7 linked regions of the Homo sapiens genome follow. The protein of the gene in region 1 purifies or fractionates together with the protein of each later gene. This does not show direct contact. Each region holds a gene or a part of one and is shown in the gene's direction. Other genes may lie near its edges.

What was found.
Region 2: the proteins of PIK3C2A (region 1) and SNAP91 purify together in Homo sapiens (co-immunoprecipitation; one large-scale study listed by IntAct). This does not show direct contact.
Region 3: the proteins of PIK3C2A (region 1) and AKR1C2 purify together in Homo sapiens (affinity purification with mass spectrometry, with the first as the bait; one large-scale study listed by BioGRID). This does not show direct contact.
Region 4: the proteins of PIK3C2A (region 1) and TARS1 purify together in Homo sapiens (affinity purification with mass spectrometry; one large-scale study listed by BioGRID and IntAct). This does not show direct contact.
Region 5: the proteins of PIK3C2A (region 1) and AKR1C1 purify together in Homo sapiens (co-immunoprecipitation; one large-scale study listed by IntAct). This does not show direct contact.
Region 6: the proteins of PIK3C2A (region 1) and ALDH1A1 purify together in Homo sapiens (affinity purification with mass spectrometry; one large-scale study listed by BioGRID and IntAct). This does not show direct contact.
Region 7: the proteins of PIK3C2A (region 1) and NQO1 purify together in Homo sapiens (affinity purification with mass spectrometry; one large-scale study listed by BioGRID and IntAct). This does not show direct contact.

What each region holds. Positions count from the first base shown.
Region 1 is NC_000011.10:17,113,987-17,117,486, reverse strand, and holds part of PIK3C2A (phosphatidylinositol 4-phosphate 3-kinase C2 domain-containing subunit alpha), read left to right. Parts: intron 1-3,021; coding exon 3,022-3,126; intron 3,127-3,500.
Region 2 is NC_000006.12:83,587,102-83,590,601, reverse strand, and holds part of SNAP91 (clathrin coat assembly protein AP180), read left to right. Parts: intron 1-3,500. UniProt on the Homo sapiens protein: Adaptins are components of the adapter complexes which link clathrin to receptors in coated vesicles. Clathrin-associated protein complexes are believed to interact with the cytoplasmic tails of membrane proteins, leading to their selection and concentration.
Region 3 is NC_000010.11:4,990,567-4,993,857, reverse strand, and holds part of AKR1C2 (aldo-keto reductase family 1 member C2), read left to right. Parts: intron 1-1,944; coding exon 1,945-2,027; intron 2,028-3,291. UniProt on the Homo sapiens protein: Cytosolic aldo-keto reductase that catalyzes the NADH and NADPH-dependent reduction of ketosteroids to hydroxysteroids.
Region 4 is NC_000005.10:33,457,965-33,461,464, forward strand, and holds part of TARS1 (threonine--tRNA ligase 1, cytoplasmic), read left to right. Parts: intron 1-601; coding exon 602-700; intron 701-1,730; coding exon 1,731-1,897; intron 1,898-2,937; coding exon 2,938-3,100; intron 3,101-3,193; coding exon 3,194-3,331; intron 3,332-3,500. UniProt on the Homo sapiens protein: Catalyzes the attachment of threonine to tRNA(Thr) in a two-step reaction: threonine is first activated by ATP to form Thr-AMP and then transferred to the acceptor end of tRNA(Thr).
Region 5 is NC_000010.11:4,969,915-4,973,414, forward strand, and holds part of AKR1C1 (aldo-keto reductase family 1 member C1), read left to right. Parts: exon of another isoform or gene 1-484; intron 485-2,005; exon of another isoform or gene 2,006-2,115; intron 2,116-2,286; coding exon 2,287-2,396; intron 2,397-2,484; exon of another isoform or gene 2,485-2,669; coding exon 2,670-2,835; intron 2,836-3,500. UniProt on the Homo sapiens protein: Cytosolic aldo-keto reductase that catalyzes the NADH and NADPH-dependent reduction of ketosteroids to hydroxysteroids.
Region 6 is NC_000009.12:72,901,054-72,904,553, reverse strand, and holds part of ALDH1A1 (aldehyde dehydrogenase 1A1), read left to right. Parts: intron 1-3,273; coding exon 3,274-3,346; 3' UTR 3,347-3,500. UniProt on the Homo sapiens protein: Cytosolic dehydrogenase that catalyzes the irreversible oxidation of a wide range of aldehydes to their corresponding carboxylic acid.
Region 7 is NC_000016.10:69,723,761-69,727,900, reverse strand, and holds the start of NQO1 (NAD(P)H dehydrogenase [quinone] 1), read left to right. Parts: upstream 1-1,340; 5' UTR 1,341-1,461; coding exon 1,462-1,468; intron 1,469-4,140. UniProt on the Homo sapiens protein: Flavin-containing quinone reductase that catalyzes two-electron reduction of quinones to hydroquinones using either NADH or NADPH as electron donors.

The sequences.
Region 1 (3,500 bases):
GTACCCATAAAAGGTAATATAAATGTGTTAATGTTAAAGGAAGGATCTTTATGGTGCTGACTAATTAAGTTGCTATTCTTTATTGGTAGACTCCCAGTAGAACTCTAACTATACCCATGCTATTTGGGGCAGATAAATTCAAAGATTGTTTAAAATATATAGGAACATATTTCACAACCTATTAAAATCAGTGATTTTCCCATGCTTATTTATTTCCATGCTTATTTATTCCTTTCTGATGAAAATTGTTTTCTTGAATTCCTTTACCTCCACTATCAAAGTCCACAGTATTTTCATCACACCAAAAAGAAAGCATGTCCCCATTTTCCCCTCCCAGCCACTAAACTGTTTTCTGTCAATATGGATACGTCTATACTTCTATATGGATATTCTGGACACTTCATGGACTTTTCTGTCTAGTTTCTTTCACTTAGCATAAAGTTTTCAGAGTTCATCTGTGTTCTAGCATGTGTACTACATGCCATTTTTGGTTGAATAATATTCCATTGTGTGGATATACCACATTTGGTTTAAACATTCATCAGTTGGTGGACATTTGGGTTGTTTCCACTTTTTGACTATTAATAATAATACTGCTGGCCAGGCGTGGTGGCTCATGCCTGTAATCCCAGCACTTTGGGAGGCCCAGGCGGGCAGATCACGAGGTCAGGAGATCGAGACCATCCTGGTTAACATGGTGAAACCCCGTCTCTACTAAAAATACAAAAAATTAGCCAGGCATGGTGGCGGGCGCCTGCAGTCCCAGCTGCTCGGGAGGCTGAGGCAGGAGAATGGCGTGAACCCGGGAGGCGGAGCTTGCAGTGAACCGAGATCGAGCCACTATACTCCAGCCTGGGCGACAGAGCAAGACTCTGTCTCAAAAAAAAAAAAAGAATACTGCTATGAATATTCATGTATAAATTTGTGTTTAAACAACTGTTTCCACTTAGGAATGGCAGAGCTAGGTCATATGGTAGTTCTGTGCTTAACTTTTTGGGGAATCATAGAATTATTGTCTGTAGCAGCTATATCACTTTACATTCCCACCAGCAATATAGAAGGGTTCCAGTTTCACCACATCCTCACCAACATTGTTTTTTTTCCTGTTTTTTGATTATGGCCATTCTAGTGGGTGTGAAGCAGTATCTCGTTGTGGTTTTGAGTTGAATTTCCCTAGTGACTAATGATATTGAGCACATTCTCATATGTTTATTGGCCATTTGTATTCTTTGGAGAAATATCTATTCAAAGTCCTTTGTCCATTTTAAATTGGAATGTCTTTTTTGTTGTTGAGTTGTAAGAGTTATTTATATATTTTGGATACTAGACCTTTATCACATACACTATTTGCAAATATTTTTTTCATTCTGCAGTTGTCTTTTTAATTCCTTAATAGTGTCCTTTAATATATTAATACAAAAATGTTTAAGTTTGATGAAGTCCAGTTTATCTATTTTTTTCTTTTGTGGCTCATGCTTTTAGTGTCATATCTAAGAATCCATCATTAAATCTAATGCCATAAAGATGTACACCTGTGTTTTCTTCTAAGCTTTTCTAGTTTTAGCTCTTATGTTTAGGTCTTTGATCCGTTGTGGTATGAAGTAGAGGCCCAACTTTATTCTTTTGAATGAGGTTATCCAGTTGTCTTAGCACCATTTGTTAAAGAGACCCCCTCCTTCCTCTTGAATGGTTTTGGCGTACTTGTCAAAAATCAGTTGACCCTGTGCTTGCTTCGGTAACACATATACTAAAATTGGAATGATACAGAGAAGATTAGCATGCCCCCTACACTACGATGACATGCAAATTCGTGAAGTGTTCTGTTAAAAATTTTTAAATAAAAAAGTTGACCACATATATGGGTTTTTTTCTAGACTCTCAATTCTATATCATATATGTCTATCCATATGCTATATTTGTTTTTTTTTTTTTTTTCCTTTTTTTCCTTGAGATGAGGTCTCTCTGTTGCCCAGGCTGGAGTGCAGTGGTGTGATCACAATTCACCACAGCCTCAGCCTCCTGGGCTCAAGTGATCTTCTCGCTTCAGCCTCCCAAGTAGCTGGGACCACAGGTGTTTGCCACCATGCCTGTCTTTTTTTTTTTTTTTTTTTTTTCTTGTAGGGACAGGGTTTTGCCATGTTTCCCAGGCTGGTCTTGAACTCCTGGGCTCAAGCAGTCCTCCCATTTTGGCCTCCCAAAGTCCTAGGATTATAGATATGAGCCATCCACCCAGCCTATACTTTTTTTAATTACCATAGTTTTATAGTAAGTTTTGAAATTGGACAATGTAAGTCCTCCTACTTTGTTCTTTTTCATTATTATTTTTGGCTATTCAGGGGACACTTGCAATTTCATATGAATTTTAGGAACCGTGTATCCATTGCTGCAAAAAGGCAGTTGGAATTTTGATAAGAATTATAGATTAATTTGGGGAAATATTACATACAATCTTAATTATAAACTATTACCTCTATATACATTGTTTACCTGTTTTCTCTTTACTAAACAATACTGCAATGAACTTTGGTTGGTGTGTACATTTTTATTTCTTTGCTAGTATTTCTTTCAGAAAATTCCTACAGGTGAAATAGCTGAGTCAAGAGCGACATGTATTTTTAGTTATAATAGTTGTTACATTGCTCTACAAAAGAAGCTACACCTGTGTACACCTCTCTCCCTACCAATAAGTTATGAAATCGTTTCCTAACACAGGATGTTGTTTTAAATTTTCATCTGATAGGTGAAAAACTGCATTCATTTTTGTTTGGCTTCTATTTCTTTGACTATTAGTGAGCTTTAACATTTTCGTATACATTGGTTGGCCAAATGTACCTTTGCCCACTATATTTATAGCCTTTGGCCATTCTAGTTTTATAGTAAAAATTAACTCTCTTTAGTAACAACCTTTTTTTCACCGTTTGACAACTGGGCATTTTATAAATTGTATCCACAGCATAACTTGTCTGAAAAATAGATCTTCATTTTCATTATGTACTTACAGTATCACATCTCTTTCTATAGGTTGTTCTCCAAAGAAGTATGGAACGAGTACAGTCCTTTTTTCAGAAAAATAAATGCCGTCTCCCTCTCAAGCCAAGTCTAGTGGCAAAAGAATTAAATATTAAGGTGACACATAAAATACTTATAAGTTCATATTACATTTGAAAATAATAGGAAGAAGGCAAATGGGCAGGTATGCTTAAGGCAAATGAAGGTAAAACCTGCACAGGTTGGTTATAAGCATGGATGGTTGTGATTAGGATCCATATTTATCTTAGCATATTTTTTTACCTAACCACCATTCCTGGGAAAAAAAAAGTATAAAATTATTTACTGCCTTGGGCTTCATTTTTTTAAATTGGTCTCACCTTTTTATTTATTTATTTATTTATTTATTTATTTATTTTTTGAGACAAAGTCTCACTCTTGCCCAAGCTGGAGTGCAGTGGTGCGATCTTGGCTCACTGCAACCTCCACCTCCCAAGTTCAAGCGATTCTCC
Region 2 (3,500 bases), on another chromosome or scaffold:
TCAAAACTGCTATTACATAGACCACTGTTTTTGTTTTTTGTTTTTTTTTTTAACAAGCTGATCATTTTTCTATGTGAAAACTCATGGGGTGATCTCAGCTCAACAGGGTCATAGTGTGAAATAGATTGGTACAGTTTGCCTTGGATTACTGCTTGTGGCCCAAGTAGTATATATAGAATAAAAGGAAACAGTTCAAGGACTCAAAAATAGTAAAAGCCAAGTATTGGTCTTCCTTGGGAGCAAGACAAAGTGTGTGCTTAGTGATAGCCTTGACCTAGAAATTATTATTTTCATAAGCAAAGCATTATGAAAGACCAGTTGCAAGACCACAGTAGTAAGTTTAAGTTCAGATTATTAGTCAAACTCACAAGACATTGTTGGCTTACCTTACTCTGATTTTACTTAGACAGGTACATAACAGGAAGCACAACAGTAGTTTCACAGAGGACTCAGTCACTCAGATGCAGCTTCTGAGGCCCCTCCACAGTCACCACAAGGGTTGAATTTTGGTCCTAAGGTTGACAAGGGGCTGACGAGAGCATGGGTCACATCACCACTGGGAAGCTGCCATGCATGTCTGAAGTCTTGCATCTTAAATACCGTGCTAGTGCTAGCCATGTAGACCTTGATAAAGCATATGAATAGTTCCCTTTTTTAGTGTGGATATAGCCCATAAAATTACAAGTTATACAATAAACAATCCTGGCACCAGGTACAGCAAGCTGAGGAACATTTATTCTTGGATTAGTGGTGAGTAATGGCAGATGCTAAAAGACCCTCATCAGCCTTCAGAGTTGTAGGGAGTTTGAGTTGAGGTCAAATCTTTCCTCAGGAAGCTAAAGCAGGTAGTCGTAGCCCAGCTGTTAACCTTTCCTTCCATCAGTAATTCAGACTGGCTATTTAACAGTCTTTCCCAGGGGCAATAGTTCTCTAGTGTCTTTCCCATCCTTTCCTGACTACTATGATCAAACATAACAGTCTTGCATGCTGAAACCACTCATACCAGTGACTACCACTAGGTATTTTCCTCAGCACTGAAGAACCAGGGCCCCACCATGATATTGCTGAGAACTTATGCTGAGAAGCTAGCATAAGAAATTTTAACTTACTTTTAATTTCCGTAGGGCTTAATTTTGGGGGCTAATTTTTCATACTTCCCTGTTTTGTTATAGAAAAATATTTCTCACCCTTGTTCAAGTATCAAAACATAAGGAAATCATATTCTCACTAAAGAACATCATGGAATATTTGGAAGTTGCAGAGATGATAAGAGGCAGTACACTTAACACAAACCACAGCTGGTTACTTGGAGAAATAAACTGCTAGTTTGCCTGGCTTTTATCCAGGCCTAGATATTCTTATATCAGCTTCCAATTGGCTACAGAAACTTTCAAACTCTTACTAAACCAATAAACTTCATACACATTTTGGGGGTTCAGCAATAAGATTTTAACATGCCACAGAAATAGCATAGTTTTAATGGCTATTTGAGGGATCATGACCTTGTTAACTTTAAAATGAGATTAGTGATTACAAACATTTTGCTTTGAAGTTATAATTAAGATTAAAACGGCCCATAAAATCAAATATTCTGGCCTTTCACAGAAGCCTATGAATTCTTTCTTTCTCTCCTGGGTATCCCATCCCCTGCCACAGATCTCAAATGGGAATTTGAAGCCTACCAGACAGTAGCCTGGCAGAGCGGTCAGCCACTGTTGACCACCTCCAGTGCTACACAGCCACATTGTCTACTCCAGGATCCTCCTCCATTGTGGCCTCTCTGTGTCCTCCAAGGCTAGAACCTGAGATATTGTGTTTCTCAAAGAGCCCAGAACACTAGAAACTGGAGCTGAAAGGCCTTTTCCTGTGGGAAAAGGGAGTGTTCCCATCCAATTCCAAGTTAGAAGTCAGTAACAGAGCCAAGAGATTTGACCCTGGGGGATGCAATAAGAATCTAAAAACACATCTAGAACAAGCCTGAAGGGGTTTGTCACCTGCTGCCAGGTGTAACTGCACATACCTGTGCCACAGCTGCACAGCTTGGTATATGGACAGGTCCAGCAGGGGAAGTCTACAAAAAAAGTATGTTAGTTCACTTTACAAAAAATAAAATTATTCAATTGTGTTGTCTATTCTGAAATCTTATTAAAATGGGGTAGAAAAGAGGAGAAAATCATCAATGAAAGTACCCAATGTCATCTACATAGGTCTCATTTACTACACACTTTCCATTTCTTCTACTGCATCTTCTTGTGACTCTTTCAGTGATAGGCAAAGTTATATATTGTGTACACTTTCTTATTTCTCTCTTTTCTATTTAAATAAATTAATATTCAATGTAAATCAGTATAGATGAGTTTAATGTCTCATTTGCTTTCAAAACAGTTCTTGTAATTTAATGTATACATATGTCAGTGCCTGATTTATTTGGCACAATGTGAAATATTATTTCACCTTATATCCTGATATAAGGGGTTGGATGCAGTGTCCCACAATCATAATCCCACCACTTTGGGAGGCCCAGATGGGCAGGATCACTTGAAGTCAGGAGTTTGAGCCAGCCTGGCCAACATGGTGAAACCCTAATCTCTACTGAAAACAAAAAACAAAAATAAGCTAGCATAAGAAATTTTAACTTTTAATTTCCATAGGGCTTAATTTTGGGGGCTAATTTTTCATACTTCCCTGTTTTCTTATAGAAAAATATTTCTCACGCTTGTTCAAGTATCAAAGCATAAGGAAGTCATATTCTCACTAAAGAACATCATGGAATATTAATATAATTCTATCCTGTGAACTAGGAGCAACTTTCCTAGCCAAAAACAAAAAAATAAAAAATGAAAAAAATTCTGCTAATAAACGCAATATAAAACCACAGTCACATTTATATTTGTAACCTAGCTGACAATTGGCTGTTTCTGAGTTTTCACAATTCTCGTACATTTTTATTTAATGCATATTAAGTAGGACAAATATTTGGGGCACTGTGTGTAGTAATTTGCAGTGAAGCTTAGCATTTGTATTATAGTTGTGTCTGTGTTTATTTGGGGGAGGGATCAGCTAAGTCCACAGTCTATTGAAACTAAGAAGATTTTTAAAAAAAAATAAATAAATGAGCCTAGTCATACATAGCAAGCCCACAAATATGATCAGAATCAAAGAGAGAGAAGAGAGAAAAAGATTCTCTAGAATCCTGTGATTGCCTTTAGTAATAAAACTGTTTTGAGAAAGAATGAAAAAGAAAAATAATATGCAGACACTGTCATGGGAGGTTTAGACTGTTCAAAGGGAACCTTGGTCACTGGACTAAGGACTCTTACCCCATGCCTAAGATTAGATTTTTTTGAGTGAATACATTTACATGTGAATCATAAAGATAAGGCAATAAATATATGATATAATTAAATTTTAAAATGATTTTAGAGATTTTAAACTAAACATTAAGAACCATTTTAAAATTGAGGCGAAAGCTTTGTTAAAAATTGGTATCATTTTGAAAC
Region 3 (3,291 bases), on another chromosome or scaffold:
TATGTTCTCTAATTCATCTAGTATATATAGATATATATGATATATGACATATGTGTTATATAATATATATGTTAGATTAACTAGAAACCATACATATATATGTATTTATTCTGGATATGAATTCTTTAGAGACTTGAATGTATTCTTGAAATAACATCTCCCAAATTTTATCTGCGTTGTCATATTCTCTGTGGTTATGTTTTCACAAACAAAAGTTTCTATCCTTCATGTAGACTAATTTTTCATGCCTCTTTCTTGTGGTTGGTGTGTGTTGTGTCTTATCCTATATTGGGAATATCACAATATTTTACTGTGTTATCTTACAAAATTGTTAATATTCTTTCCTTATAAATTTGGTTAATTCTAATGGGTATGACTTTTAAAATATTATGTGAAATAAGGATCCAAATATGCGTATCTAATTTTTGAATTTTTAGCAAAATTTACCATTTATTGAAAAGTTTATATTTGCTCACATAACTTGAATTTTTTTACCTGACACATATATGAAATGTCCATGAGCAATTATCTGGCCTCTCTTCCATCTTCAGTTAACTTATTCACTTTTCTGTGCTATAATGTTAAAAAGTAAGTTTCACTTCCAGTATGGTACAAATATTTTTCTAACTTCTTCATTTATTTAATAATATCTTAGCTATTCTTGACTAATGTGTTATTTAAAATTTTGAATCATCTTATTAACTTCCACAGGCAAGTAAATGTTTTAGTCTCTCATTGACATTGTAATAAGCCTGCAGATCAATGCAGAGAGAACTGAATCTTTGACAATATTGAGATTTCCAGTCCATGATCATAATATGAATATCCCACTACTTATTAATAAATCATCTCTTAATAAATATATCATTAATTGCATAAATTTCTCCATTACTGATCATTTTTTTTTTGAGACAGAGTCTCGTTCTGTCACCCAGGGTGGAGTGCAGTGGCACGAACTCGGCTCACTGCAACCTCCACCTCCCGGGTTCAAGCAGTTCTCCTGCCTCAGCCTCCAGAGTAGCTGGGACTGCTGGCGCATGCTGCCATGCCCAGCTAATTTTTTGTATTTTAGTAGAGACGGGTTTCACTGTGTTGCCCAGGCTGTTCTCTAACTCCTGAAATCAGGCAATCCTCCTGCGCTGGCCTCCCAAAGTGCTAGGATTATAGGCGTGAGCCAACGTGCCCGGCAATTACTGATAATTTTAATAGTTTTTGATAACTTTTCATTTTCATTTTGTGGATTTTCTAATATATAGAAATATTAAAAGAATAATGCAACAAATCTTCTTACCTACATTCATCAAGTGTTACATTGCTGTCATTTTTTACTCTCTTTCTCTCATTTTCTGTATTACTCCTTCAGTTTCCCTATGGATTTATACACTTATTTGATTGAATGTATTAGAAAGAGTGACATCTTTTTGATATTTAGAGTCTCCCAAATTTACATAGTGAGTACCCACACCTTTTGAATGTGAAATCGTTAGTATTTAGACAATTATTGGCTTGAGTGATGTTGAAAACTGATTTTTCCTATTATACCTGTTCATTGGAGAGATAGATATTCAATGTTATTCATCAAACCTACTAAATTATGCTAGACATTACAAAATTTGCCTCTAGATTCTTGTGGGTCTTCTAGGTACATGGCCCTATCATGTGGGCACAAAGTAAGCTCTGTTTCTTCTTCAGCTTCCTCTGAGATATTCTCTTCATCTGCAGTGTTGTGCAGTTTCAAAATATTTTATCTGGGAATGGATTTCTGCTTATTTTTGACTGGTTTTCATTGACCACTTGGGTGTTTAGAGAGGTCTTTCATAAATTTTGGAAACGTATCAATCTTTTAAGTATTGTCTCTGCACCCTACTGTCTGATGAACTTGGTTGTTCCCAATTGGCAATGATGTAATCTAAAAATAATTAAAGTTTTCTATTACTTTGATAGGTGTTTGAATTCCAGTTGACTTCAGAGGAGATGAAAGCCATAGATGGCCTAAACAGAAATGTGCGATATTTGACCCTTGATATGTAAGTAATTTTGGAGATGGTTGTCCTAATTTATTTTCAGAGGAGGAACGTAGGATGGGTGTTGAGAGTGACCTCCACACCAGGGGCACAGAGGCCAACGTGAGACAGAGGTGAGACAGGAGCTTTCTGGAAGTCTCCTCCTGGATTCACTCCAGAGCTCTGTTCTCTGGCAGGGAGAGTGGCCTGGGGTCAGCATGGGTCAACCTGTGCCTCTGCTCTCGTGACTCCAAGGAACTTTCCAGAGCAGCCAAGATCATTGCTGAATCTGCACCTTCCATGTAGGCCTGCCGTTTGTATTACTGTCTAGTGTACACACTGTGGATATGGCCCATGTGGTCGCATTAGATGTTTCCAAATCTGTGCTTCTATCTTGTTCTTCCCAACCTGCTCAATGTCTTACCAGATCAAAGGCAGTTCCGTCAATCTTGTGGGCCAGGTTCCAATTCCCACCTCTTTCACATGGAATTGCTTGCTGGATCCTGTCAATTTAGCATTTTTAATCATTTCAAACCTTTTTCGTGCCTTTCTTTGCATGTTTGCCCATGAGCCAAATACTGCATTTGCCTCCAGAAAGTCTGTCTTAGTGGAGCGAATAGGAGCACTTGGCCTTGGTGTTCTGCAATATGGAGATCTCAGTGTAGAGAATGAGGAAGTGTTAAAATCAAATGCAGAGTGTAGATGCAAAAGCACCATTATTGGAGATAATTTATAACCAGTAACAGACGTTTACTATTCCTCTATATTCTAAGGTTCTAGGATTCATAGAAGGTCATTCAAATAATGAGGGAAAAAGAAGTTATGTAACTGATGGCAGTGGAGATTTTAACAAGTAATAGAGATGATGAGATAATGTGTGAAAAAAACAAGCACAATGGTACATCATAAGTACCCAAAATTTGGTGGATATTATTAGTAGTATTTTATCCACTTAGCAGAAAATACAAAATGAAAATGGAAATGATAATAAGAAAAGGAAAAGTGGCAAGCATTAGAAATGTTTACAACTGATTAATGTTTTTTATGATCATGAAATCAATCACTAGTGTTATTTTGTAGAACTCAAATATGGTCTGGAGTAAACCACTTGCGAGCTTCCAAGTGTTTGCTCTCGGTGTAATCACAAAGGATAGGCTCAATTCCGTAATTAACAAGTTATAACTGTATATGTGAGCAGTCATTTATCTGTGTCTTTACATTTTGGATTATGTCTACCTATAAAATGGTTTATGCATTGTAGCTCTTTGAATATTGGGCCCTATAACAT
Region 4 (3,500 bases), on another chromosome or scaffold:
ACTGCCTTGCACCCCTGACTACCTGACATTCCAGCTATGAGGCAGCCAGCAATGATTGATGGGCCCTTCCCTGAGGGCTTTTGGGCACTTGGGGAGGCGGATGTTGGCAAGGAGGTAGGAGGGTGTGTTTCTTTCACCATGACCCAAAGTCAGCCAACTTTACCATCATCTATTTCATTATCAGTGTCTTTTTCCCAGTCTCCTTCCTGATACTCTTACTAAGAAAATAAATACATACATAAATAAAATGAAAAAAGATCCAGATCTTGGAGCTTTAAGGAATTTAAGAACCATGAGAGGTACTGCAGTGGATAGTTAAAGAACTGAAGGGACCCTTATTCCCTGCCACTGTTGGGGAAACTTGACTGGATTGAGGAATATAACAGGCAGGGCATGTGTTACACGTCTGCCAAATTGTAAATCAGCTGCAATTCTATAACATCAGAAACACTGACATGGTTTCTTTGATTCAGGAGTGGCACTGATTGAAATATGGGACATCATGACCATATTCTGAGCTCAAGAACACTGAAATTTATGTATATATACACACACGTATACGTGACGTACATAAACATTCTTTTGCTTTTCTTTTACCCAGGACCAAGAACTATATTTCTTTCATGAACTCAGCCCTGGAAGTTGCTTTTTTCTGCCAAAAGGAGCCTACATTTATAATGCACTTATTGAATTCATTAGGGTAAGTCATATTTATTGCTTTCTTCTTTAGATTTAGGATATGTGATCATTTTATTAAATAAGGTCTACTAAAAGGAAAGATAATCTGTATTTGAGAAGAAATATATAAGACGATAAGTAAAAGTAGAAGTCTGTGGCCTCATAAATCATCCCTAATAGTTGATTTTGCCCATATACACATAGAAACTGGTGAGCTTGAAGGGGGACCTGTGGTCCTTGACATAGGAGCTCTGTGCCCTCTTTGACTTTGATCATTTATTTGTATTTTCTTTGAAAAAACGGTTTTTACATTGCTTTTTTCCTTTGTAAATTATGAAATGTTTCAAGTATAAGTTTATAGAGAATAGTATATCCAATATCTTGTACTTAACTACCCACATTTAACAAATATTCACATTGGGCTATATTTGCTTGAGATTTTTTCATTCATGATATTAAAAAAAAAATTAGTTGTTTAAAAAGCCTCTCTTTAGGACCCAGTTTTGATCCATATACCTCCATATACTGGTATATATATCCATATACTGGTATATCATATACCAGTTTTCTAGAAGAAACTACTGTTTTGAAGTTGGCATGGATTCTTTTTGTCCATGTTACTTATATCTAGCCCATGTATTTGTACCCTTAAATTATTTATGTATTTGTGTGTTACATATAGGAAGCCTCATTGTGTATCAGACTGCCTTGTGATTTATTTTTAGAGACATGCAAATCAAGTTTATTTTCACTTGCTACATATTATTTTGTTATATAACTACCACAATGCACTCATCCCTGTATTGATGGACACTGATGTATAATTGTCCCTTATTATCAGCCATGCTGCAGTAGCATCACTTTTATAAGCCTCCTTAGGTACATGTGCCAAGAGTTTTCTCTCTGGTATATACTTAGAAGTGGGATTTCTGAATCATGGCATGTGTCCATCTTTTTCATGAGAGAGTATAAAATCACTCTTTAAGTTTTTACTCCCACTTGAAGTATGAGCATTTATTTGCCTACACATGTTTCTGTTTATTTTCTATCAGAGCGAATATAGGAAAAGAGGATTCCAGGAGGTAGTCACCCCAAACATCTTCAACAGCCGACTCTGGATGACCTCGGGCCACTGGCAGCACTACAGCGAGAACATGTTCTCCTTTGAGGTGGAGAAGGAGCTGTTTGCCCTGAAACCCATGAACTGCCCAGGACACTGGTATTCGGCAGCTTTGAATTTCTACTGAAGATTTTCACATGCTACAATTCATCCTGGGTTCTTCCCTCCTTTAACAACATTTTCATTAAAAACAAATTATGTGATCAGAAGAGCATTTAAACGCAACATCTTTGTATTATATCTTCTGCACCTGATTAGATCCCCACTTTTTTTTTTTTTTTTTTTAAAGAGGTCTTCCAACTGGAGTGCAGGTATGCGATTATAGCTCACTGCAGCTGGGACTGCAGGTATATGCCACCATGCCCAGCTAATTTTTAAAATTTTATTTCTGTAGAGATGAGGTCTTGCCACGTTGCTCAGCCTGGTCTCAAACTCCTGGCCTCAAGCGGTCCTTCAACCTTGGCTTCCCAAAGCGCTGGGATTACAGGCATGAGCCACTGTGCCCAGCCAGATCTCCAGATCTGTGGGCATTCAGTAATGGTACTGGGATCATAGCAATGACCAAGGCAGACTATAAAACAGGAAGATGAAATATGGGGGTGTAACAAATTACCTAGTGTGTTGTTGTTTTAAAGAAACCTGTTCTGTCAAAACCTGCTAATGACTCAGCATTCTTGGAAAATGTTCCTTGTCATGAGGCCGCTCTGCTTTCTATCTTTGAAAGTTGGGTGAAGAACAGCTTAAGGGAAGACACAGGAGAGCTGTGGATACAGGTAGCTTAGTGTCTGCAGCTCCTACTAGCCAGGCCTGGAGGGCAGAGGAGGTGAGAGAAGAATCTTTGTGAAGAAGCTGTATTATAGGCTAGGGGACCAACCAAGTTCATTCTTAATTTTCCCAGATTCTTCAGTTGTTGGAATACGTTTTTTAATTCTTCACTGTGGTTCATTGAGTTATAACTTATTTGCTGTTTTATTCATGCAAGTGCTTTTACTGCTGTATGTAGCCCAGAATTTGAGAAATGTTGCTTGGATGGACAGCTAGAATCAGTGGCTTTTTGACAACCTTTCGTGTAATTAAATATAGCATTACAGAAGCAGTTTTATTCTTAAGTGTCCGTGGACTTTTCTTTTTCTCTTCAGCCTTATGTTTGATCATCGGCCAAGGTCCTGGCGAGAACTGCCTCTGCGGCTAGCTGATTTTGGGGTACTTCATAGGAACGAGCTGTCTGGAGCACTCACAGGACTCACCCGGGTACGAAGATTCCAACAGGATGATGCTCACATATTCTGTGCCATGGAGCAGGTATGAGACCCTGGGAATAAAATACTTAGAAAGAAGAGTCAAGAAAGTCAAGGAAAATAACTACTGTTTCTTTTTTTGTTTTTTAATTTGAAGATTGAAGATGAAATAAAAGGTTGTTTGGATTTTCTACGTACGGTATATAGCGTATTTGGATTTTCTTTTAAACTAAACCTTTCTACTCGCCCGGAAAAATTCCTTGGAGATATCGAAGTATGGGATCAAGCTGAGAAAGTAAGTGGTGTTTTTCAGCGTGCTTTTGAATACTGTTTGAAATTGGCTTGTTCTGAGATGTAAGAAAGCCAAGCCTCTTTAAATGGATAAAAGCAAAATGAAATTGGAAATGGTTCCTAGGTTTGTGTAAGCTAGTTTTTTTCTTTATGATTGTGTATTTTTGAAATGG
Region 5 (3,500 bases), on another chromosome or scaffold:
ATAATTTAATAAAAGCATTGAGAAATTAATGTGGTTTTAATACTAGTAGTTCCCCAATTTTTTAATATGGCCATTTTCACACTTTCCAAAAATTTGATAAAAATAATACTGGAGACCCATGTTACCATTTATATTCAAAATTACTAACATTTTGCAATGTTATATGGAGTATATCTGCATAAATACATATAATGTTTCTAGAACCTCTTCAAGGTAAATTGTAAAGATGACAATTGACCCCTAGAGACCTCTCAAAGCATGTCACAGGAATGAAGATATTCTCCCAGTTCCAGTGTCATTACTGTATCTAAGAACATCATCTATAGTGCCCTCATGTCATTTGGTATCCAGTCCATATTTGAATTTTTCCTTGCTTAATCAAAATATCTTTTGTAGCTCTTCTTTTTTTAACCAGAATTCAATTGTTTTTATATTGTTGTATTTTGATATCAGTTAACTTGTTTTTCCCAGTTGTTGAAGGTTTCTGTAAATTAGAAGTTAGATGAGAGTGTTTTATTACATTGACTTAAACCTTTGGGGCAAGAAAATATTTTTATCATGCTGTGTTTTTCAAATTGCACCACACTAGACTGCATACAATCACAGAATGCCCCACTAGTGGTGAAGGTAGTTTTAAAAACTTGGTTAAGCTCCAACAATGATAGACTGGATTAAGAAAATGTGGCACATATACACCATGGAATACTATGCAGCCATAAAAAATGATGAGTTCATATCCTTTGTAGGGACATGGATGAAACTGGAAATCATCATTGTCAGTAAACTATCGCAAGAACAAAAAACCAAACACCGCATATTCTCACTCATAGGTGGGAATTGAACAATGAGATCACATGGATACAGGAAGGGGAATATCACACTCTGGGGACTGTTGTGGGGTGGGGGGAGGGGGGAGGGATAGCACTGGGAGATATACCTAATGCTAGATGACGAGTTAGTAGGTGCAGCGTACCAACATGGCACATGTATACATATGTAACTAACCTGCACAATGTGCACATGTACCCTCGAACTTAAAGTATAATAAAAAAAAAAAAACTTGGTTAAGCTAACAGTGGTCAGATCTGTTGTTTTTAACTCATGTTTTCTCTTTAACAATTACTAGTAATCTGCTGGGGGATAATTCTCAACAGAAGAAGTCATATTCCCATGACAAATTTTCACATATGATTGAGTATACATCAGTGATTTGAACTTTTTTCTACTGCATTTCTGTTTTCTTCTTTGTTATTTCTTATTTGTTATTTCCTTGGGGTTTTTACATAATCATTTACAATTTTAACCACTTGTTTAACTATTCTTACCTGACATTTAATTAAAAATGATTTCTCACCAAGTAAAAATAATAAACTACTATTCCTCTAAGTGAGGGTAAAGGTGAACTTCTTCCTTCAATTAGCAATGTACTGTGAACGTAATTACTGTAATGACCACCATCAGAGTAGACAAAGATTGTTGTTCTTTTTCTCATTGTCGCACTAATTACTACAGACTCACGGATTCTTGTGTTATGATTTTTAATTTATTTTACTCATTTTTTAATGCTCACATCTACTCAGCATATATATATTATATATATATATATATAAAATATATATGAAAGAAGAATGTGATCAAAGACTCATGAGGGCAAGTGTAAAAGACAAAAGCACTTGTTTCATAGGGAACCCACTGGTGACATTTGAGATATCAACATACAAATCCATCATACAAAAAGGAAAAGTAATGAAAGACTGTGAAAATTATCAGTATTTATGTGTGTATGTATATTTTCTAGTTCATCTATATAGATATATATCATAGATGGCATATATGATATATATATTATATGTCAGATCAATTAGAAAACATACATATACATGTATGCATTTTTGGTATTAATTAGGAAACTAGTTCTTTTGTCTTTCAGACCTGCCCTCATGAGTCTTTGACCAAATTCTTGATTTCTGGCACGATTTGATGCCCAAGGCTCAAAGAATCTTACCTCATCCCAGCTCTGAAATTGGCCGTGTCTCGTTCTAGTGGTCGGAGTTATTGAGAAACCAGGATAGGGTTCATGGAGTTGCTTGTGCTCAGAAATAGCATTTCTATTTTCTTAGGAGAGAGGGGCATAAAATTTATTTTTATGAAAAAGATCATTTTTGACAATAATATTCTCAGTTCAAATTTAATGCTCTACATTATTCAGCTTCTTTTACTTTGGTGATTTTAATATTAGTGTAACTTTTGGATTATCTGATGCTTTTCCATCTTGCTCGTCTGCAGGTGGAATGTCATCCTTACTTCAACCAGAGAAAACTGCTGGATTTCTGCAAGTCAAAAGACATTGTTCTGGTTGCCTATAGTGCTCTGGGATCCCACCGAGAAGAACCATGGTAATAAGAGATACAGGAAGTTTACCTAAAACACCGGTTTGATAAAAAAAATTTAATCAGATCATGCTGTTTCCTGGAGTTCACTCACAGCTGACTTGGGGTGAGGGAAGAATTTGCATTTCTGACGAGATCCCAGGTGATGTTGAGGCTGCTGTTCGGGGGCCTCGCTTGAGAAGCTCCGGTGCAGAGTGGACGCCTTAGTCTGTTTAGGGAGCCGCCTAACAAACTGTATCCCCAGCCTCAGGGCCTCAGCCTTTCTGCCTTTCCTTCCAGGGTGGACCCGAACTCCCCGGTGCTCTTGGAGGACCCAGTCCTTTGTGCCTTGGCAAAAAAGCACAAGCGAACCCCAGCCCTGATTGCCCTGCGCTACCAGCTACAGCGTGGGGTTGTGGTCCTGGCCAAGAGCTACAATGAGCAGCGCATCAGACAGAACGTGCAGGTGAGGAGCGGGGCTGTGGGCCTCAGGTCTCCTGCACAGTGTCCTTCACACGTGTGCTTCTTGTAAGGCTCTCAGGACAGCCTTGGGCCAGCTCCATTTCCCTGTATTTCCTATGCATGAACTCTTTGTGTACGTCATAAGGGTTTCTTCTACTCTAGCACAGGAGAGGCAACAGAGGTGGAGAGAAATAGGATGGGATCAAAACTACAGATTTGGGTTAGCGTTAAGTCAGTGATATCCATATCCCTCTGCTGGGGCCATGTCCTTTTCTTTATTTTTTATAATGAAGCATTGATTAGATGTTCTTTAGTCTCCAACTCATGGCGGATTTTTCTTCTTGTATGTTTATGTAGTATAAATTCCTTATATTTATTCTCTTAGAATTTTATCTTTGCGAAGTGCTTGTTTAACTCTGCCTTTTTTTTTTTGGCGAGGTGGTTGTGTGTCTTTATTTTTATGTGTAGGAGACCATATTTATACCAATACCTTAGGATATAAGACAAACCCACTTAATATAGAGGCTTAATGCAAAAGCATTTATTGAGCTCAAGGTTCCATGGTTAGAAAATTAGCCTGGGCTCAGCCTAAACTCAGTCCATTCCTTCTGTTCCTGGCTGGGCTCTCATGTGTGTTCAGGGCAGTGAGGCAGCTCTGCTTCAGGATGT
Region 6 (3,500 bases), on another chromosome or scaffold:
GAGAAGAAAACTTCTCCTAACAGAAGAGATGAAACTTCCTCTAGGGCAGAAAGCAAGTGTAGGATATCAGTTAGTAGAGAAGAGGGCTTTCTTGCATGGAACATTACATGTGGTATGTTGAGGGGCTAGTGAATTTTGTTGATTGGTGTGGATTTATGGGGATGAAAAATATGATTTCAGAGTAACATATGATACAGATTAAGAAGTCCTGCATTTAAGAAATTTGACTTAGATTTTATTAGTGGAGTAGTGAAAAGCCATGGATATATTTAGGATGTTGCTGAAGTAGAACAAAAAGTTAGCCCATCAAAAATGCATGGCGTAGCTGAGAAAACATTACTGGAGTCTGACCAGCTGAATTTGATTCCTAATTCTGCCACTTGCTAGCCATGCACCCCAGTTCAAGCTACCTAACTTCTGAGCCTCTACTTTCTCATATTTGGTGGAGATGTTCACATTCCTCTTAAGATGGAATGAGAGTTCTTGTGGGAGTTAAATGACATACTGAATATTAAATCCCTAGCCACATAACTGTCACAAAGTGTAAATTCAACAAATGGGTTTCTTCCTTCCCTAGTTTCTTCTCTTTCTATTACTGGAGAATCTCTTGGCAAAACTAATTACTTTGTACAAAAAGTAAGAACAAAGGTTAGATTACTCTGAAGGGCAGTTGGTTCGTTTCTGGCCTGGTTATCTAACAACACATTTCACTGAGAACATTAAAGATAAAATAATCAAAAGGAATGCAAGACTAAAGTAGACCAAACATGTCAATTTCGTTGAACATAATTTGGTCAGACTTTAAGGTGAAGGCATAAAGAAATCAAATAAGAGAAGGACTGAAAACAGGAATCAACCATCAGTAATTTCCTAAAAATCTAGAACATGAGTATAGATAATTTCTTTCAAATACAAAGGAAAAAGTTGTGGGTTTTTTTTTTTTTACTTCAAAAATTCAACTAGAGAATGCTACAGTTAAAGTGTACCTGAAACCAAATTTGGTGAATTTAATAACCAAGTCATTTGCTGCAAGATGTTCCAAGAGTTACAAGTTATTACTCAGGCGATAACCTCAAATGACTCCCAAGAGTTAAATTATAAATTTTCCTCAACAATAGAGAGAATTGATCAGTTGAGAACAGAGTCCTCAAAGAGCGAAAAATGGTGTTATGCAGACCCCAGTGTGTTTGAAGGTGATACAGAGTATGCAAATCTTGATTTTGCATCTCTGATCATAGTGTTGGCTCTGGGATTAGTTAAAAGACAGAAATTCCTCCCTTTGTGTAACTGTACTGTTTCACTTAGGTTAACGTAGGTCCTTTAAGACTTTGCTAGTATGCCATTTTAAACTTGATTGGCTCTTAGCCCCTCCCACCATATTTTTTTCCTCCTGTCCCATAGAAAAGGGAGCAAGGAAGTGTAAACTAATGGTCGTATAGTGAGAACACAAATGAATTTTTTTTCTTGATATTTACCAAGTGTGTTCAGCAAACAGTTCTTCTGTGCCTACTTAATTAGTGCCAGTCTTAATCCTGGGTACAGAGAGGAAATCAGATGTAATGTGGTACTAGTGCCTTTTTTTTTTTTACAGTGTGGACCCTGGACAAGAAGCATAGGTTGATATCACTTGCAAGTTTATTACCAATGCCAACTCAGGCTTCACTCGAGACCTGCTAATTCAGAATCAGTATTTGAATAAGGTCCCAGGTGATTTGTACATTGAAGATTTTAGAAGTATACAAACAGTAACTCACAGACATAGTAAGATGAAGAGAAATCCAAACAGATGTTTGGGGCTATGTCGTAGATATAGTATAGGCATAGGAATCCTAAGGAGCAGGACATATTTCAGCCTGAATATGACAAAAATCCCACTTATTACTCTCCTGAGAGCTTCAAGTGCCTATATGACCCAAAATACAATGGAAAGCCTATTGGCGAAAGTCATGGGTTGATTGATCTAACCCTGAGATAAAATACTTATTAAAATATTATCTTTTAATGGGTTTCAGACAACTGAGGCTAAGCCCTTTAATTACTTTAAGGACCATGCTCACTGAAGCTTTTAAAAGGTATTTTCAAAAGCTTAATTGCCCAAGAAAATAATCAGTGTAAGAGTATTAGGTTACCCAGCAGAAAATGATGTCTTCTACATACCTGTCTACATCACAAGAAGGGAGGGGTAAAAAAGGATCAAGATCTTATTCTTCTGTAAGCCTACATGTGCATGAGTGTTATGATTTTGAGACTACTCTTATATACATGTAATTTGATCCTCTTATCAAAACAATATAGAGAATAACTGAGCCCAATCTTTTTAGTCATCTCTTCAACAAGGGGTAAATCAGTCAGTTTCTAAAACTGGTGGGAGGTCTCCATAAACCTGATAACAAGATCCCAAAATCCAAACTGATTGACTGAGTTAATTCCTGATCATTTGGGTTGAACTTAAGAGTTATACAAGAAAATGGTAGGGGACGAGGAGGTTGTATAAAGGGGAAAAAACAACAACTGCAAAAAGCCCAAGAGCCTGAATTTAGACCAATCTATCATCTTCCTCCTCTTAAAAAGAAAACAATTTAAAAGTTTTAAATAAAAAATAAAGGTCATGTTTTTGTTTTGCCAAGAATCAAAAGATTTTGCTGAAACTACTGCTGCAAAATATTTTGTTTCAAGCCATCTTAGGGCACCTCAGACTAAAAATGAAACCATGATCAATTTCTATCCCCTTACCACTTCTATGACAATCACACATGGTAAATACAAGCTCTGCTCTAGTACTACAATAAAACTGTAGAACTAGAGTAGACCTTGTAGTGATCATATATTACTACTTCTCCTCTTGTCCTATGTCCATCTTATTTCAATCTAAACTAGAAATGACAAAATTCTTGTTGGGTCGAATTGTCTTTTGAGTAGTTTTAGAGCTTTTTGTTTTCATTTCTCCAAGATGATCTTGTTGCATCTGCAGTTCGAGTTTTTAAAATCAAGTAGAATAATGTCAAAAGGGGACAATTTATGTGAGAAATCAACTGACAGTACATGATTATTTAAAATGAAAGTTTTAAAGAAAATTTTCCCCACAAGGGAATCTGTGTAAGACCAGAAATCTTATGATTGGCTAGCTACTATATAAAATGCTCTGTACACAAGAAATATTTTCTATTGTCCCTAGCCAGTAAAACAAGAACAAACTCGTACCAAACATGAACTACAGTATATTTATACTGCTGTGCTAAATGGTGTTTGTGGGTATGTTTTTCTTCTCTCTAGGGGAGAGTACGGTTTCCATGAATATACAGAGGTCAAAACAGTCACAGTGAAAATCTCTCAGAAGAACTCATAAAGAAAATACAAGAGTGGAGAGAAGCTCTTCAATAGCTAAGCATCTCCTTACAGTCACTAATATAGTAGATTTTAAAGACAAAATTTTTCTTTTCTTGATTTTTTTAAACATAAGCTAAATCATATTAGTATTAATACTACCCATAGAAAACTTG
Region 7 (4,140 bases), on another chromosome or scaffold:
AGTAATTTGTAAATACGTGTAAATAATATAGTCCTCTCTTGTTGCATCAAAATGAATGCAAAAATGTCACGATGGGGCCGGGCGCGGTGGCTCATGCCTGTAATCCCAGCACTTCGGGAGGCCGAGGCGGTAGGATCACCTGAGGTCGGGAGTTGGAAACCAGTTTTCTGGTGCCTCCTTAACTTTTGCACTGGAGGGACAACGGAAGGGCCCTGTGTCATCCTCACCTCCCCCATCTGTGATTCTTCTGATGGTTAATTACCACTTTAAAGCTCTAGTTCTTTTTCCTTCACCTACTGAGAGTATATCTCCTTCTTTACAGTAACTTTTACTTTATAGAGTTTTTTTTGAGACGGAGTCTCACTTCGTCACCCAGGCGGGAGTGCAGTGGCACGATCTCGACCCACTGCAACCTCCGCCTTCCGGGTTCAAGCGATTCTCCTGCCTCAGCCTCCCGAGTAGCTGGGACTTACAGGCGCCCGCCATCACGCCCAGCTAATTTTTCAGTACAGACGGGGCTTCACCAGGTTGGCCAGGCTGGTCTCGAACTCCTGACCTCAGGTGATCCACCCACCTCGGCCTCCCATATTGCTGGGATTACAGGCGTGAGCCACCGCGCCTGGTCCCGTTTTGGCTATTCTTTAATATGCTTCCCTATAACTGCTATCTCCACACCAGCCTTGCCTTAGCTCATGGGAAACAAAACCAATTAGTTCCCCCATTACCTGCCTTGAGGAGCAGGGGTGGTGCAGTGGCATGCACCCAGGGAAGTGTGTTGTATGGGCCCCCAAGTGCAGAATCTGAATCTTGCAAAGGAAGAAACAAATTCGTCTCCACGGAGCATGTCTCCCCAGGACTCTCAGCCTTCCAAATCCGCAGTCACAGTGACTCAGCAGAATCTGAGCCTAGGGCACCACAGTAATCCGCATCCGGCTCTTTTTCTGCTCCATTTCGTGCCAAGGCTAAAAGGGCATGCCCACTTGATCCCTGGACTCTCTTGGGACGACTTCCACCCTGCATCCTCTTGCACCTCAGGGCACAGTGCGCAGATGGGCTTGCCTTAGCACCCCCAGCCAGATTTTTGAGGCCTCTGTCACACACACCCCTACAATCCCCTCCCCCAGCCCCGAGAGACTTTTCTTGACTTCCACCAGTTGCTCCGGCGGGTGAGAGTGGAGAGGCCCCTCCTTCATCCCCCAGGCTCCCTCCCTTCCTGGAGCTGCAGCCTCAGCATCCTCCGCCCAGCACCCCAGGATTCAGGCGTTGGGTCCCGCCCTTGTAGGCTGTCCACCTCAAACGGGCCGGACAGGATATATAAGAGAGAATGCACCGTGCACTACACACGCGACTCCCACAAGGTTGCAGCCGGAGCCGCCCAGCTCACCGAGAGCCTAGTTCCGGCCAGGGTCGCCCCGGCAACCACGAGCCCAGCCAATCAGCGCCCCGGACTGCACCAGAGCCATGGTCGGTGAGTGCTGCAAAGGGCGGGGTGCTTGGCGGTCGTCTCTCGAGCACTGGTGCCTGTGGAGGAGGTTGTAGGGGCTTGGCCCTGAATTTTGTTCCTTGACTCAAAACCCACAAAGGGAAGAGATTAGGGACCTGGGATGAGCCTTGATCGGACTCCGGGAGAAGGAGAGCTTCTGTTTGTATCCGGTGTCGCGGATCCTTCCTCACTCCACCCCACGAACTCTAGTGGGCATTTAGGAGAAACTTGACCTTGGAAGCAGAAATTCCCTCCAAAACTGTGGTCAGAAACTGGCCGTCAGAGGCCAAATCAGGCTTACGGTCACAGCCCATACCTCTTTTGGTCTATAGTATCTAAAACACTTTGAAATAAGTTGCTAACATTAAAATGGGTGATTTCACTTAAAAATGTGGATTCCGAGCTTCTGAAGAAAATGAGAATATCTGGCGATTGGTGGACAGGAGTGGAGGAAACTGATGCCTTTGGTTTGACGGAGACCAGAACCGGCTCCAGGCTGCCAGGCACAGGTTTTGTTTTGTTTTGTTTTGTTTTGTTTTGTTTGAGACGGAGTTTTGCTCTTGTCGCCCAGGCTGTAGTGCAATGGCGCTATCTCAGCTCAGCGAAACTTCCGCCTCCCGGGTTCAAGCGATTCTCCCATCTCAGCCTCCCGAGTAGCTGGGATTACAGGAGTGCGCCATCATGCGCGGCTAATTTTTATATTTTTAGTACAGACGGGTTTCGCCAAGTTGGCCAGCGCGGTCTTGAACTCCTGACCTCAGGTGATCCACCCACCTCAGCCTCCCCAAGTGCTGAGATTACTGACGTGAGCCACCGTGCCTGGCCTTGGGAGGCATTTTCCATTGAGGCCCTTGGATTAGGCAAACCTGATCAGATCGTACTGGATCCGTTTCTAGTATTGGGTCCACTTCAGTGATAGAGCCTTCCCACTCGGCCATCGACCCTAGGGGAACTCAGAGGTCACCCCAGCTCCACCCAAGGCATAAATAACCAGCTGAGACAACTGCAGGGATTGAGAGCTGTTTCCCAAATAATCTCACTCTGAGATTGGACAGTACTAAGATTTAGAAAGCTGTTGCCTCATCTGGGGCAGAATCCTGTGTTTTGTAATTTCCTTCCCTGTGGACCTGGTCCTGCCTCTAAAAATGCGCCTGTACACAAAGAAGCCCATCTTGGTCAAAGTGAGTGGAGGAACAGACTGCCCTTGCAGTTGACAAACTGAAATTATCAGGATCTCTGAGAAAGGGACTAAGCTGGGGATTGGTAGCCCAGCATGAGTTACTGGCAGAGACAGCAGGGAATAGATTCTGACAGCTGAGAGGCTTGCCGCATACACGGTGGTTGCTGTTTCCCTTGTATTTCATTCTTCAGCGTCGAGGCACTGGCACCCTCTCCTCCAATACTAGGGCAGGAACTATTTCCTGACTTTTCAATCTTACAGAATGTTCTGTATTTACGTGTAGCTTAAACACAAAAAAGGGCGGTGGTAATGAGGTGAAAAGGGAAGACTTGGATCTTGTATAATTAGTTTTAGCTGTACCCAGCTAACCAAATCTTGAGGTTAACTAAAGCATCCAGGTTTTTTGTTTGCAACTAATAGATGCATCTGATTTGCACTCATGTTCCCTGGAGCACTCAAGTGAGAAGAGAAGGCAGAAGGAGAATGCATGAAACTGATACAAAGGCTTATCTTTATCATACTTCTTTTTTTCTTTTTGAGACAGGGTCTTGCTTTGTTGCCCAGGCTGGAGTGCAGTGGCATGATCAGGGCTCACTTCAGCCTTGACCTCCTGGGCTCAAGTGATTGTCCCATCTTTGCCCCCGAGTAGCTGGGACTACAGGTGTGTGCCACCACACCCAGCTAATTTTTTTTGGTCAGAGCAGAAGAACTTGAAACCCAGCTAATTAAAAAAAAAAAAAATTTTGGCTGGGAGTGGTGGCTCATTCCTGTAATCCCAGCACTTTTGGGAGGCTGAGGCGGGAGGACTGCTTGAGGCCAGGAGTTCAAGACCAAGATTCAGCTCAAATGGCAAGCTCCTCTGAGGGCCTTTCCGAATGGGCCAGCCCTGAGGTCCTGAAGTTTTCCTCTGTTGAACTTTTTGAGATGGAGTCTCACTCACTCTGTTGCCCAGGCTGTAGTGCAGTGGCGTGATCTTGGCTCATTGCAATCTCCACTTCCCAGGTTCAAACGATTCTTGTGCTGCAGCCTCCCAAGTAGCTGGGATTACAGGCGCCCACCACCACGCCCAGCTAATTGTGTATTTTTAGTAGAGACGGGGTTTCACCATGTTGGCCAGGCTGGTCTCTAGCTCCTGACCTCAAGTAATCCACCCGCCTCGGTCTCCCAAAGTGCTACGATTACAGGCATGAGCCACCACACCCAGCCTTCTGTTGAACTTTGTCCCTTACCTCTCCTAACACACTAATGCCATTGTACCCTGAAGAGGTTATCCGTGTGTGCATCTTGTGGCCTCTCTCAGGGTAAACTCTAATAGTCTAACTCCTCCCAGGTCATGTTGCTCAGCTAGTTAAGTGGCAGGAAGGGAAAATGAACCCTCCAGGGCCCAGAAAACTTTTAAATTGCCTATTCACAAGCATCTTTTTGTTTGTTTGTTTGAGACAGAGGCTTGCTCTGTTGCGCAGGCTGGAGTGCAATG